2 separate regions of the Homo sapiens genome follow, and region 2 is linked to region 1. The links come from fine-mapping of genetic effects on gene expression. Tissue or cell type: thyroid. Region 1 holds a variant in brackets; the other region holds the start of a gene. All regions are shown on one strand. Distances are between the middles of the regions. Region 1 overlaps MTA3 (metastasis associated 1 family member 3). Region 2 holds the start of HAAO (3-hydroxyanthranilate 3,4-dioxygenase).

Region 1 (2,904 bases):
GAGATTTGTTTAACACAAAACAAGAAAAGCTGAGAGGCAAAACAGGGGAGTGAGGGGCAACCCAGAGGTGGGGAACAACAACAGCAAGCCGCCCCCATCCTGAGACTGGCTGGGCACCAGGGGAGGACGCGTCACCAGAGCCTGGGGCCAAGGCCACTGGGGGACCTGCCACACTGTGGACCTGTCTGGTGGGGGCTGGAGCCTCGAGAAGCCATGATTCTTGTCAGAAACATTTCCCCAGGCAGAGAGAGGGGGCCCCAGCCTCTCCCCTCCTCTTGGCCTCCAGAGTCCTGCAGGTGCCTCACAGTAGTGAAACCCAGTTGGAAGCAGCTGCCCTGGGAGCCTGGGACAGGCGACCCACCGGGTCAGTCCCCTGCCACTCAGAGCAGAGCAGGGGGCTGAGGGCAAGCAGGTGGGGCTGTGCGTGGCCTCAGTGCACTCGGTGTCATGTCTGAGCCTGGTGTTTATGCCCCACTGCTGTCCTAAGTCCCTGGCGAGGGGAGGTGGAGGAGCTGCCCCGTGGGTGTTTGGAGATTCTGTTTTACTCTGCCTAGAGAGGAAACGGCTTTGGGGAGGGAGGGGGAAGCCTTTATTCTTTACTGTTGTCCCTGTTTTCCTTTGGGGGAATTTACTCAGTTAGCAGCCCCTCCTCACCATTCCCCCCAGGAAGGCCATGTCCCAGTTTTCTGTCCACCCCTCCTGTTCCTCTGCACTATGTCTCTGATTTTCCCTGCCAGGGAAGCTAACCCAGAGCACGCACCTGTGCTCATGAGTGTTTCCGCAGGATAATTCGTTCTGAGCATGATACCACAGTGTGGATTGTCTGTCTGTAAGGAGATGCCATCTACTAACCAATTTGTATTGTGTTTCCAATAAATTCCTGGAAATTTTGCCTGGTTTTATGCTGTTCTTTACTAGGATGATGGCTCAGGTGTAAGACTGTGCACGCACCCCTAGGCCCAGCCTCAGGTGGTCCTTGTTTCAGAACCTTGAGCTCCGAGGGCCCCGGGGAGGTAATAGGCCAGGCCAGTTGGTCTGCTGTGCCCCAGCTGCACTGAGACTCTCAGAGGCCTTTCCCCAGGGTCTGCATCTTCTTCTGCTGTCTCATAAGCCACATCCTGGGGACATGGAAGTTTCACGAGGCGAGGTCACCCCAGTAGGAGGCCTTTGACCCTGTGCCCCCAGGCCTGGAGGTATGAGGTGTAATAGGCAGCCTTTTTCCCGTGAACTACCCTGCAGTGTGACTTGTGCCCTGCTGTGGCCAGTGCTGGGTTGTGGGGATGGGTGCTGGGGT[A/G]TTCAGGTGGTGCACTGAGGAAGGCTGCTGTGCCCCAACATGGGGTTTGCTGTTTGGCTGGCTGTTTGTGTGGACTCTGTCTCAGCTGCTGTGCCAAGGTCATTATAGGGGAAAGTGAAGCTTGGCTCCCTTGGGACCCCTCCAGCCTGTGTTTGTGAAGTACACATGTTTGTGACTCTTGTTTGCTGGGCTTTCTGAAAGATTTTCTTAAAAGGAGTCACTAAGCTTATTTTTTTCTTTTCCTTTTTCTCAGACATGGTCTTGCTCTGTCACCCAGACTGGAGTGCAATGGCGCGATCTCGACTCACTGCAACCTCCACCTTCTGGGTTTAAGCGATTCTCGTGTCTCAGCCTCCCAAGTAGCTGGGGCTATAGGCGCACGCCACCATGCCCGGCTAATTTTTGTATTTTTAGTGGAGACGGGGTTTCACCATGTTGGCCAGGCTGGTCTCGAACTCCTGACCTCAGGTGATTTGCCCTCCTTGGCCTCCCAAAGTGCTGGGATTACAGGCATGAGCCACTGCACCCAGCCTTCTTAGTGTTTTTATTGTTTGTTTTTTTGTTTTTTGTTTTAAATTAAGGCTTTTAATGCGAACTCAAATATCACCTCCCTCTTTCTGGAAGCTCCTCTGTAGCTTAGAGTGTTGCATGCCATACCTCTCAAGGGGGCCGACCTTAAGCTCCATACCAGGACTGGGTTTTTATCATCGGACTTCCTAGGAGGTTTCTTCTGCCCCTCCCTGGGTAGGTTTTACCCTCTGTTTATTCTGATTCTGCTCCTGGGTGCAGAGATTGCTGGAGGAACCACACCACCTACTCACGACCCCACAGCTTAACTCATCAGGGTGCTTAACTCACCAGGCCCCTTTGAGCCACTTGCTTAGTGACCCTTTTCTATGTTCTTCTTTGGGAGCTTGATTTTCTTATTTCCAGAACCAGCTGTTCCAATCCTTTGCCACTTTTTAAGTCCTTATCCCCTGAGAGCTGCGGCTTCTAAGAATCCCTTCAGCTTTATTCCCCTTGTCCCAAGACCTACTGAAATAGTGCCATTGCTCCAGCTCAAAGAGGCATCCTTCTATCTTCTGGGGACAGACCCTCCTGCCACCCATGAGCTGCATTCATCCTTCCACTCCCTTAGGGCCTTGCAATAGTGTCTTGACTCAGGCCAGACTGCCACTTACTAGCTGGATGACCTTGGGCAAATTATTCAACCTCTGTGTGCCTCAGTGTTTCCATCTGTAAAATGGGATAATAATGGAATCTCCCTCATCAGGACTAAAAAAATTAATATGTGTAAAATGCTTAGAATAAGGTCTGGTACATTCCAGTCCCCATCATCATTCCCCTCCTCCCCAGTATTTTTCTTTTCTCCCTTCTCCTCCTGTATTTAAAAATCTCTTCATCTAATCCACCAAATAACAGAACAGTCAAACCACCAAAACATCTGTCCTCTGCTTAGTTTCATCTAAAGCTATTATCTTCTCTCCTTTTACTGGCACATTTGTTGAAAGGGGAAGAGTTGTCTCCATTACTTCAAATCTCATTAATTCCTCAACCCATTATAGCACTTTATGGCTTCCATTCTGCCCCCACCCCCATCCACTCACTGA
Region 2 (2,904 bases), 35 kb after region 1:
GGGATGAAGTGTTGGAAGGAGGCAAAGATGATGCTACATCTTTAATTGGGGGTGGGCAACAACAGTGATAGAAGAGATCTTTGGGGAGATATTGACTGTTGGCCATGTGGTATTGCATGGTAACCAAGAGTGTGCGTGGACTCTGGAGTCGAACTGCTCCGTGGGTTGAGTCTGGAGCCTATCGCACAGGCGCTCCGTGACACTAGAAAAGTTACTTATGAAAATCCCCCCTCACGGTGCTACTGTGAGAATGAGATGAGATGATGTAAAAACACTTGGCATAGTCCTGGGCCTGCTGTTTGCCTTGAGGTGCCACCCTACTGACCATGTCCTGTGGACACAGCAAAAATGGGGAATGTAAACCTTGATCTAGCTGGCATGTGGGGCCCCGCCATGGAACTGGGGGGATGAGGGAGGTGACCATACCACAGGGGAGGGCCTGAGAGGTCTGCCTGAGAAAGATGGCAGCTGGATGGCCAACCCTGTTGGGTGCTGCAGGCAGAGGCTACTGGCAGAGGTGGCCTAGGGAGGGTCTGGTGTGGTGTGTGTGTGTGTGTGTTCGTGCACACCTGCATAGAGGGGCCCTGAAAAAAGCAAGACATCAAGATCTTCCCAAAGGAGCGGATTCTCTGCCTCCCCCTTTGCCTGTGGCTTCTGGGACAGGGTTGGGGTGTATGATTTGGCTGCCCCCAGGCCTACATTCTAGTGCATTTCTGCCTTGAAAACCACCCTCCCCACACTTTTGAGTTTTCCCAAAATGCACAGTGTCACTTGGGGTTGGAGAATTGTTTCTCAGCCCTGGAAGGAGAGGTGCACCCTGTCATGTCATCTCCTACAGCCTGAGAACCAGCTCAGCCTTCTTCAGAAGTCAAGGCCACAGTCACAAGAAAGAGGAACAGACCGATGTGGTGGAACCGGAACAGCCTGTCTCCATCTTCCCCCAAGAACCAAGAGATTAAAGCGGTCCTTCTGCAAGCTTCTGGGTCCAGGAACTCGGAGCTGGAAGGTGAGGGCGCAGATGGAGGAGGGGGAGGAGGCGAGGGCAGGGGGCGGCCATGGGGGTGCTGGACTCACATGAGCTTGTTGCAGACCGGGGGCTGGAAGGAGCCCCGGTTCTCCTTCACCCAGGCCCTCACTCCCAGGCGGCGCTCCATGACTGTCCCGGGCGCCTCCTCGCAGCGCTGTCCTCCCGCCGTCGGAGGCCCGCAGCTCCGCCCAGCCGCCTTTTTAACCAGAATCCCAAGCTCACGAGGCGGAGCAAACCCCCGCGACCCCGTGGTGGGGGCTTGGGGCCCGCGGACTTTGCCCCCTGGTGGACTTTGGTCTGAGCCCGCCGCCCTCCGCGCCACTCCAGGCCCTGGCGAGCGCGGCGGCGGCAGCGCTGGGGAACGGCGTCCCGCGCCCTCTGCTTCTCCGCGGGGCAGGGGCTCGGTCCCCGCCACCGTCTCCGGGGCGCCCCACACACTGGCGCCTGCGGTGGGGCCTGCTCCCGGCGGAGGACAAAGAATCCAGACCCTTCCTGGACGCTTGTCCCCAGACGTTCCTTCCCTCTACGCCCCGAGGGGAATCCCAGGGAAGGTTCCCAGAAATACTACAGTGAGGAGATCGCGGGTTGGAAGTCCCAGCACCTGAGAACACGGTGCTGGCGCTGGGCTCAAGATTTGGCTTTCCCATCTGGAAAAGGGGAATGACTGCCCCGCCACTCAGGGCTGCGGCGCTCACCCAGCGGGAAGCCGCACGGCGGTCCCCGCAGGTCCCGATTCAAGGTGAGCCCCAGACCTGCTGCGTGCGGCCGGCAGACTCCGCCGCGGGCTCGGCGAGGGGAGCGGTGCAGGCGCCGAGCTGCGGAGCCCGGGCTCAGGGCAGGACCGCGAGCCCTCCCCACCTGAGGCCCAGCCGAGCGGCCGCTGTCCGCGCAGTGTCGCAGTGGACCCCGAGCCCCGTGCTGAACTCCTTAGGCGTCTTAGGAACATACTCAGTTCGCACGCAGCTATGGGAGGAATTTGGCAGATGTGGACACCGGCCTCAGTGTCCTAGCCCTCGGGAATCTCGGGGTGTTAATGATGACAGCCCCGTGTGAGAGACTCTAACAGTTATCCTGGGGGTGAGGGGCTGGGGCGCTGGGCCTGGGCGTGCATGTGTGAGGAAAGAGAAATCTGCGCGGGTGTGGAAGATGGAGAAGCCTGTCTTTCTGCAGGACTCAGAACTTTCTTAGGAAGTTTGGAGGGAGTGGGAGCTGACGGGTAGGGGAGGAGGAAAATGGCTCAGGCCCCTGACACCGGAATCCAGACTATAGAGTTTAAGAAACTAAACGCCTCTAAATCCTGCCCTCACAGCCCGCCTGGCCTGGGCTGGTTTTCTCAGCATTCCAGACATAAAGACTCCTCTAGTACAACTCAAAATCAAAACCCAGACGACAGGAAGCCGAATTCCCCACTGAGACCCTCCCGTTTCCTCTCTGACGCTCTTTTTTTTTTTTTCATTTTTCTCTCTCCTTTTTTTTAGTTATTTATCTAGCACAGTTTTAGCTGAGCACTTCTAGTGCAAAACTAGAATATCGTTTTGCACCCAAGTAACTCACACCACCTTCTTTATTTTTCTCATCTACAAGTAATCAGAGGAGACGTAAACAATGACACATGAAGCACTGAGGATCTGAGATGTGTTAAGTTTGCTTTGAGTGTTAGTTAAATGGAGGGATGGGTGAGTGGGTGGATGAAGGCATCAATGAATTCACACAAAAAGGAGAAAAAATTGATTTCAGCCCAACAGATGTTCCGTTACCATAGTGCAAAGGAAAGAATGATAGGTACTCTGTATTTTAACTGATGTGATCAAATAATGTGAATAATTAAGGCCACAAGTAGAATTTTGGGGGTCTGAAATATCCCGAGTAACCCTCTA

What was found. PIP is the estimated chance that this variant, and not a neighbour inherited with it, causes the effect.
Region 2: it holds the start of HAAO, and the variant in region 1 is fine-mapped to the expression of HAAO in thyroid (GTEx, PIP 0.98).

The regions. Positions count from the first base shown.
Region 1 is chr2:42,756,056-42,758,959 of GRCh38, forward strand. MTA3 (metastasis associated 1 family member 3) reads left to right here. Exons shown (of 17, transcript NM_001330442.2): 17 at 1-891. Among named protein-coding and RNA genes, the nearest start is that of OXER1, 6.6 kb to the right of the region's middle. RefSeq lists enhancers at 1-559, 560-1,131. The variant A/G (reference allele first, on the strand shown) is at 1,295.
Region 2 is chr2:42,791,383-42,794,286 of GRCh38, forward strand. It overlaps HAAO (3-hydroxyanthranilate 3,4-dioxygenase), which reads right to left and starts at 1,201. Exons shown (of 10, transcript NM_012205.3): 1 at 1,075-1,201. The coding sequence starts at 1,154. RefSeq lists silencers at 1,048-1,487, 1,668-1,767, 1,848-1,937.